Linked DNA regions of Homo sapiens: region 1 is reported to be linked to region 2. Evidence: microRNA targets listed by miRTarBase, many of them from high-throughput screens and not tested one by one. Region 2 holds a microRNA gene; the other region holds the end of a gene's coding sequence.
The links. Region 2 holds the annotated microRNA hsa-miR-4795-3p (AUAUUAUUAGCCACUUCUGGAU, at 2,585-2,606, opposite strand). A microRNA usually pairs through its seed, bases 2 to 8, with sites in the 3' UTR of a target mRNA and lowers its output. Matches are read on the target gene's strand: a 7mer-m8 pairs with bases 2 to 8, a 7mer-A1 pairs with bases 2 to 7 and ends in A, and an 8mer does both.

Region 1 (4,399 bases), not on the chromosome of region 2:
AGTGCTTTAGTTCAAGCTCCGTTCTTCAAGTCCACTGGAGGTTTCACACAGGGGAGAAACCTTATAGGTGTGATGAGTGTGGAAAGGGCTTCAGCCAAAGTACACACCTTCACATTCACCAGAGAGTCCACACAGGGGAGAAACCATACAAATGCAATGTGTGTGGAAAGGATTTTGTGTATAGCTCTGTTCTTCACACTCATCTGAGTTCACACTCGAGAAAAACCATATAAATGCAAAGTGTGTGGAAAGTGCTTTAGTTACAGTTCATATTTTCACTTACATCAAAGAGATCACACCAGAGAGAAACCATATAAATGTGATGAGTGTGGTAAAGACTTCAGTCGGAATTCAGATCTTCGTGTTCACCTCAGAGTCCACACAGGAGAGAGGCCCTATAAGTGTAAGGCATGTGGTAAGGGCTTCAGTCGTAATTCATACCTCCTTGCCCATCAGAGAGTGCATATAGATGAGACACAGTACACACATTGTGAGCGTGGCAAGGACCTTCTGACTCATCAAAGACTACATAAGCAGAGAGAAACATTATAAAGGTAGTAAGTCAGGGTTCAATTAGGAAAACAGAAGCCACACTGTATTCCAGATGATAGAGGCTAACTCAGCCTTTGGGAGGGCTGGGGGAGCAAAAGACAGGGACGCTGCCATCGATGAGGTCAGCATGACAGGCTGGGGGTTCGCGCTGGCACAGGCGCCGGCAGCCACATCGGCAGGCAGGAGGGTCCCGCTGCACAGCTGAGGGGTGATGATTGCCTGGGTGGTGATGTCGGCCATTAGACGCGCCTCTTCTGCCGGCAAGTGTGTGGCAGTATGAAGTAGAAGGACAAGCCTGTATTTGAGGCTGGAATGCGGAAGGGGCTCTTCTGCGGCTAGGTGTGGGACCCTGAGCAGGAATGTGGAGAAATGGGCAGGTAAATGCATCACGTTGGCCAGGAGATTTGCAAGGACTTACAGCTGAATGATGATAATGGGGAGTGACTGTGAGGCCCTGGGAGTCTCTGAGTGTAAAGGAAGATAGGTGTGGGGCCCCCAGGGAGTATGTGGGAGCCATTGCTGTGTAGGTGGAGGTAGTTGGGGAATAATCTGGTGAGCTCTGTGAATTTCTAGGGTTCTCCTGAATGCTGAGGGGTGACTCTTGCAGAAAACTGAGGATGCTTGGAGAATAGCTGGGAGACACAGATGAGGCCCTAAGGAATGGTGGTATAGAGGTGACAGAGATAAGGGAGGAGCACAGTGAGGTCTATGAGTTTCTGGGTGACTCCTGTGTGTTCAGGGCTGACCCAAGGAGAAATCTGGGGATGGTTGGAGAGGAGCTGGGAGACACAGGAGAGTCCCTGAGGGTTGCAGGTGAAGAGATGGGAGACGTGATAGAAGAGGGCCCTGAGATTTTTGTCTATAGGTGATACTTGGGTTTGGGAAGCTGAATGTTGCAGTAAGCTGGGGATTGAGAGAATCTGGGAGACACAGGAGAGTACCTGAGGGCCTGGAGTAAAGAGTTGGGAGACATGGGGCCAGAGCCCTGTGAGGTCCCTGAGTTTCTGCTTGTTACATGGGTGTCAGGGCCTGACTGTTACAGAAATCTAGGAATGATTGGAGAGTAATTGGGAGACATGAGACTCCCTGAGGGCTGGTGGTGAAGAGATGGGAGACATAGGGGAGGATCCCGTGAGGTCTATGAGTGTCTCTGTAATTCCTGGGTGTGGCAGGCAGACTGTCACTGAATATGAAGAATGTTCATGGCTTATATATTTTTTATTTTTACTTTATTTTCTAGGTCTCATCATAGCTCATATATAACACTCAAAACATCATTAAACCATCTAATCTAATATTCGACCATATCATTTCTTTCTTTACACGACTTGTGAGATAAGTAAGATATCAGTTAAAATTTTCATTTCAGCATCTGTTTTTCTCATATCCCCTTTGTGCTTCTTAAAGATGGTTAAAATAGGACAGACAGACTTGGAACTTTGTTCAACTGTCTTAGGAAAAGACCATTGCAGGGGCACAGTCTTTCAACCCCACTGGCCATGTAAGACTAGGCCTGGAGCCTGGAACACATCCTTCCCAAGAGATACTGAACCTCTTTCAGACTCATTGAGGGTTCTTCAAAGTGTGGGTCAGTGGTCCCCAAGGGATGCCCGCAGCTTTCAGTATTTCACACTCCATGAAAACATCAGCAACTGTTTTCCCAGACCTGACACTGCCAGGTGTGCAACAATCTCTGGATTAATCCTCATAGAGATGGCTCCACTTAGGGTCATCTCATAGGGATAGAATTTTGCTAAGGATAACCCCATCAGTTACCCTTTAAGTTTTCTTTCCTATCCCAAGGGTATTAACCTCTATTATCTGGTCTCTCAGTTCAACTTTCAGCTTATTACCTTTCTGGGATCAGAGGCTTCAATATATGGTCATCCACAGGATTCAAATTCATGATTCAAGGGAAAGGTCAGAAAGACATGTTAATCAAATCTTAAATATCAAAGAGTAACTAAAACTTTGCCTCATGAAAGCATTTTTGCAAGCATAATTTAGACGGTCAGCACTGAGCCAGGGAAGCACCCTTCTATTCAGAGGACTCTCACATCAGGGAACATATCCCAGAGGAAAGAGACAATGCTACATGAGGGGAAGAACTAAAACATGAAAATAGAGTTCCTTAATATTGCTTTGCATATATGAAAATAAGCCCACTTGCCCTCTATACTTCCCACGCATTCTCAGTTCTTCATATGAAACCATTTCTGGCCAAAATTTCTAGTTACCTATTTCCAGGAATCCATTTTATTTTCAATGAGGAATGTTCCTAGGAATCTATGTCCTAAGTAGTAATCTGCTCATGCTATTCCAAACATAAACCTCATTATCCTGAGGGATCTTTGCTATTTGGTTGCTTAGTCTTTCCTAAATAGTCAAAGAAGGAAATCTTTGTATTTCATTTTTGGCTTTGAATAATTTTTACTCATTATATCATTTATCATAGCATAACAGCGTACATTCCAAAAAGGAAGGCCCAACATAAACTGAGAAATTGAATAGATACATCCATAATCCCTTTCTATTCTAATCCATACACAAATATTTTATCATAATGGTTTTAGAAGTGAATATTATTTCTATATTCTTTTCCCACACTTTTCACTATATATCATAGACACTTTCCTAAAATTTATAAAATCTTCACATGTAACAACAGCAAGTGCTGTAAGGAACAGATTACAAGCTATCTAATTGGAAGATCATGTAGTAAAATGATGCACTAAAATATGGTTTTCCAGCCTAAGTTCTAAACACTACAGCAACCTTTAAATTTTCTCAATAAGCCCACTAGTGTTAGCATTCCATTTACTCTTTATGGAAAAAGAGGTCTAACACTGGCAGTTGGCTTTGGCATATGATTTTCTCTGATTCAGGTCTGAGTGCTTTCTGCAAGGAAAAGTGCCAGTATTTATTATTTTCATAGGAATATGTCATAAGAATCAAGTTTAACATTGTATATGGAATTGCCAGGTTGAAAAGTCGTTCATAGACTTTCCCCCTTTCTTTTCCAGAACAAATTTGAGACACACAATTAACAGAGGGCTGGAAGTTTTCCCACATATATTGTTTTTATAGTAGTTCTTCCAACTACATGTACTACCTTAAAATAAATTTTTTAAAAGAATGAAATAAAAAGGAAGAAATCCCAGCTGATTTACAAACTAGTTACATTCATAGAGTTTCTCTTCAGTATGAGTTGCCTGATGCCTAATAAGTTTATAGCTATTAATGAAAGCTTTTCCACACTGAATACATGTAAAGGGTTTCTCTCCAGTATGAGTTCTTTGATGCACAATAAGTCGAGCACTCAAGCTAAATGTTTTTCCACACTGATTACATTCAAATGGTTTCTCTCCAGTATGAGTTCTCTGATGTTGAGTAAGGCATGAACTCTGTCTGAAGGACTTCCCACATTGACTGCATTCATAGGGCTTTTCTCCAGTATGAGTTCTCTGATGTACAACAAGAACATAACTCTGGCTGAAGGATTTCCCACACTGATTACATTCATACGGTTTTTCCCCAGTGTGAATTCTCTGATGCATAACAAGGTGAGAACTGCGGTTAAAAGATTTTCCACATTCACTACATTCATACGGTTTCTCTCCAGTGTGAGTTCTTTGATGTGCAACAAGCTGAGAGCTCCAGCTGAAGGATTTCCCACACTGATTACATTCAAAGGGTTTTTCTCCTGTGTGAGTTCTCTGATGAGCAACAAGTTTATAACTTTGACTAAAGGATTTCCCACACTGATTGCATTCATAGGGTTTTTCCCCAGTATGAATTCTTTGATGTGCAATAAGTTTATAGCTCTGGATAAATGATTTCCCACATT
Region 2 (4,323 bases):
GAAACAAATGAGTTGATGTTTTCGCTAAATCCTTACATACATACAGAATTATTTATTGACTTTTAGGTTCTCTAGATCTCTACTGTTGTTCATGGAGATAGATAATGTTAGCTGCTTTTCATATATAAAGAGACTTGAAGTTAAATGTGTCAAATCAACAAAAATGTACCAAATGTATATATATATACTTGTCATTTGGCGTTAAAACATTGAAACATGGATAATATGAAAATACGATTGCATATTAAGTTTCTATTAAATATATTTACATTCTAGTAGGAAAATTATTGAAGGGCCTGACAAGAGATTCTCTCTGAACCCAAGGAGTTTAAAATTGAAGCTGAGGAGAAAAGACAAACAGAAACAAATCTGCACCGAATCCTTCCAGTACCAATGTTAGATACATATTTCTATAACAAGTCAATTCCTACACAAATAACAGATTTAAGAACAAGAAAACCATTATCTTATTATTTATTTGTTTATTTTACTTTAAGTTCTGGGATACATGTACAGAACGTGCACGTTGGTTACATAGGTCTTCATGTGCCATGGTGGTTTGCTGCACCCATCAACCCATCATCTAGGTTTTAAGCCCCACATGCATTAGGTATTTGTCCTAATGCTCTCCCTCCCCTTTCCCCCCACCCCCTGACAGGCCCTGGCATGTGATGTTCCCCTCCCTGTGTCCATGTGTTCTCACTGCTCAACCCCCACTTATGAGTGAGAATATGCAGTGTTTGGTTTTCTGTTCCTGTGTTAGTTTGCTGAGAATAAAACCATTTTTTTATTAAGGAGAAAGAAATGGGCTAATTTGGGGAGGTGGTGGCTGTTAAGGTGAAGGTAACCAAGATCAGCATCAGAAAGCCTAAATCTTCAATTTGTGTTTTCTGTACTACAGAGAAGAGAATTTCAGCATGAAGATTACTTGAGAAAGCATAAAAAGGTAAAACAGCTGGAAACAACAATACAGATAATACAAAAATGATTATTATGTGATATGGTGTGAATGTACCCCCCAAAAATTCATATGTTGAAACTTAATCACTAATGTGATAGTTTTTAGAGGTGGGAACTTTAGGATGTGATTAAGTCATGAGGGTGGAGCCCTCATGAATGAGATTAGTTCCTTTATAAAACAGGTGTGAGGGAGCTGCCTACCGCCCTTTTACCCTTCTGTCCTTCTTGCCATGTGAGGATACAGCATCTCTTTCTTCTTGAGGATGCAACAGCAAGGTACCATCATGGAAGCAGAAAGCAGCTCTCACCAGAAACAAAACCTCTGGGTTCCTTGATCTTGGACTCCCCAGCCTCCACAAATGTGAGAAATAAATTTCTACTGTTTATAAATTACCCAGTCTGTGGTATTTTGTTGTAGCTGCACAGAGGGGCTAAGACATTACGTGCCAAGCACTACTTTGAATGTTTAACATATTAACTCATTTAATCCTTGCAACAGCTATTAGGTTGGTGCAAAAGTAACTGTGGTTTTCGCCAATTACTTTTGTACCAACCTAATATATGAAAGGTGGGCTAATGTTATCTCTATCACATATGTGATGAAAGAAACACGGAGAGCTTCAGTGAACTGGCCTAGGTCTTAAAACTTAAAAGTCACAGAATTGGTCACAGAACTGGGCAGTCTGTGTCCAGAATCAGCACTCTCCAATGTTATGCTATCTTTCTTCAAAAGCTGAACAAGGAGAAGAATGCACCCATTCAAATTATAACCCGAGGTACCCAAAGATGAAAAAATGGCAAATATTTCAGTTTCAGAGGAGGAAACTATGTTATGAAATACTCCAGAAAACAACATATATTTAAGTGTATCATGCCCTTTAAATAAGGAGCGATATAATAATACAAAATGTGTACAGGAGAAATGTGGCCACCAACTAATCAGAATGGACTCTAGCTAGACTGGTGCAATCAGCTGAATATCAGCCTTCTTCAAACTATGGGAGAACAAGCTATTAGAGTACTGAGTTTAAATAGTAAATATTTCTATTTTGTCTTTATTGTAATGAACAAGCCCTGTCTTTAGCTCCTGCTGTGCACTTTTGGAGGGTCTTCCATATGGTTGCTCCTAAGTATTTTGGCATTTTCCCAACTGTTACAATTGGGTCAGTGGGGGGGATTGTATAGGAGTAATAAAACAAGGGTGACTGCAGCAGGGAGGAGTACGATTACTACACACATAACAGCTTATTGCCTCTCATGCGTTCAAGCACAGCTCTATGCCATTCATTACAACAGACAGCCAGGGCAAACTGCCATAGAGCTCACTCCAGAAAAGGCCCGGTCTTGAGTGCAGAGACTAAATCTTCTCACTTACATGTCTTCCTAATGTTTCCTTACTTCATCTTCCCATATCGAGAATAACTTGAGGAGAAGCAAAACAATTATATCTTGCATATTACTACGTCATTCTTAAGAAAGTTTTCTTGAACAGACTCTCAGCTAACTTTTAGCAGCAGCAGCAGCATTATCAGTGGCTATGAGGGCTTGGATATCTCAGGAGGGGAAAAATGGGAAAGGCTGGCCTGATTATCATAAATAATAATCCTTGAGACATGATTCATAAATCCAGAAGTGGCTAATAATATTGACATTATTGTTATAGTGTCAATATTATTAGCCACTTCTGGATTTCTTCCATATCAGAGATAATATTTATGAAAAAAAAAATGCTACCATTATTTTTATCCTGTGGAAGGCAGTGTTGCTTTAAACAGTAGAGACTATATACAGGTACGCACGCATAGGTTGTATTTTCCATTTTATACATGCAAGGATTCTTTAAATAATTCATTACATTTTTTCTTTAACATGATATGCAGTTTTTCACAAAAAGCCCAAATAAACGGCTGTGAGGAATTCTAATAGGATCACCGTATAGCCATGACACTTTATGATTCATGATTTACAAGAAATTAAGAAATAGAGCTGGAGACATTTAGACCAGCCTACAAATTTGTGTGTGTGTGTGTGTGTGTGTGTGTGTGTGTGTGTTTTAATGTTTCCAGGCAAGAACCTTAAACAAAAAGTGTAGCATTAAAAAACTTCCCTTCGTCCTCGAGACCCCCCCAACTCTAGACACTGGATCCCCGGAGACCCACGCTGGGTCGTCGGAGTCTGGAGCCGGGGGCGGCAGGTGAGCGGCTAGGGTCCTGCAGGGGTCTGCGCGGTGCGGGGGAGGTCGCCGAGTCAGTCAGTGCCGAAAGGACCGCGAACTCCAGGGGCCAACAATCACCGGGTACGGAACTCAACGTTTCCGCCAGTTCCTGGATTACTCGAGTAAAAACAAACAAACAACAACAACAACAACAACAAAAATACTAACAGCAATGGGACCGTAATAAATCAACTCGGAGTGGGTACAGGCGGTTCCGGGACAACCCACACTTAGTCTAGGAGCCCGGAGATCCCTCATCCAGCTTTCCCCGGGGCAAGGGGTGAAGCGCTAAGCAAGGCTGATCACTGTCCTCAATCATCACCCAACCCGCGCACAGAAGCCGTGGCCCCACGCTCTCCTATCCCCGCCAGCTCCAGACTCGCCCCGCTGCCAACTCCCGGTGCAGGAGGAACTGGCAGCCGCAGACGTGAGGAAAGCGGCCGCGGCTTCAAACTCCGTAGTGCGCAGGCGCCACACAACGCGCAGGCGCCGCCTAGAAGTGACTTCTCCAAAAAGTGTGTTAGTTCCCGGTCACCTGAGCTCCGGGTGACGCGGCTGCGGTAGCTGCGGATACAAGCCTTCCGCGGGTCCTGCCTGGCGACCCCGACCTCCTCCTGCTGTCTCTCCGCTCCGCCACCCCGAACCCGCCAAGGTCCTGTCCTTTTCCTCCTGTCCTTTGCCAGCGTTGGGCCGGACCGGGCCGAGCCGGGCCGCCCGGGCGCAGTCTTTAACCATGGCGTCCCTCTTCAAGAAGAAAACCGTGGATGGTGAGTTCCAGGCCGGGCTGAAGGGGCCCAGCTCTGCGTTTTCTCGGCGTCTTTCGAGGCCTGCTGGCCGCGATTCTGCCTACTGTCCCTGGAGGCGGGGCTGGATCAAGTGGTCCCACAGGTGACCGCCCTCGCGGCACCACTTCTCTGCCTCCCTCTTGCTTCTGACTCACCTCACCTTAGGCTCACCTAGGCAGTCTGGTTGCTTCCCTATCCTCACGATTCCCCCACCCTCGGGTTTTCCTCAGCAGGATCCTGAGCGTTTCGAGGAGGCTAGCTGGCCCTTGAGTGTCAATAAACTTGGAAATCTGATGGATTTCTTGTTGGTTTCCTCTGCTTCGATTGTTGCTCTTCAGTTGGGCGATATACTACTTGTAGGCA

Region 1: the mRNA of ZNF180 is a reported target of hsa-miR-4795-3p. Seed matches in the 3' UTR shown: 8mer at 3,473-3,480 and 7mer-m8 at 3,133-3,139.

Annotation. Positions count from the first base shown.
Region 1 is chr19:44,472,677-44,477,075 of GRCh38, forward strand. It overlaps ZNF180 (zinc finger protein 180), which reads right to left. Exons shown (of 5, transcript NM_001278509.3): 5 at 1,767-4,399. The coding sequence ends at 3,726. It also overlaps the pseudogene ZNF285BP. Among named protein-coding and RNA genes, the nearest start is that of ZNF180, 26 kb to the right of the region's middle.
Region 2 is chr3:87,223,615-87,227,937 of GRCh38, forward strand. It overlaps MIR4795 (microRNA 4795), which reads right to left and starts at 2,663; the gene lies at 2,575-2,663. It overlaps CHMP2B (charged multivesicular body protein 2B), which reads left to right and starts at 3,695. Exons shown (of 6, transcript NM_014043.4): 1 at 3,695-3,942. The coding sequence starts at 3,909. RefSeq lists enhancers at 3,147-3,286, 3,397-3,456, 3,547-3,596, 3,647-3,716, 3,787-3,906.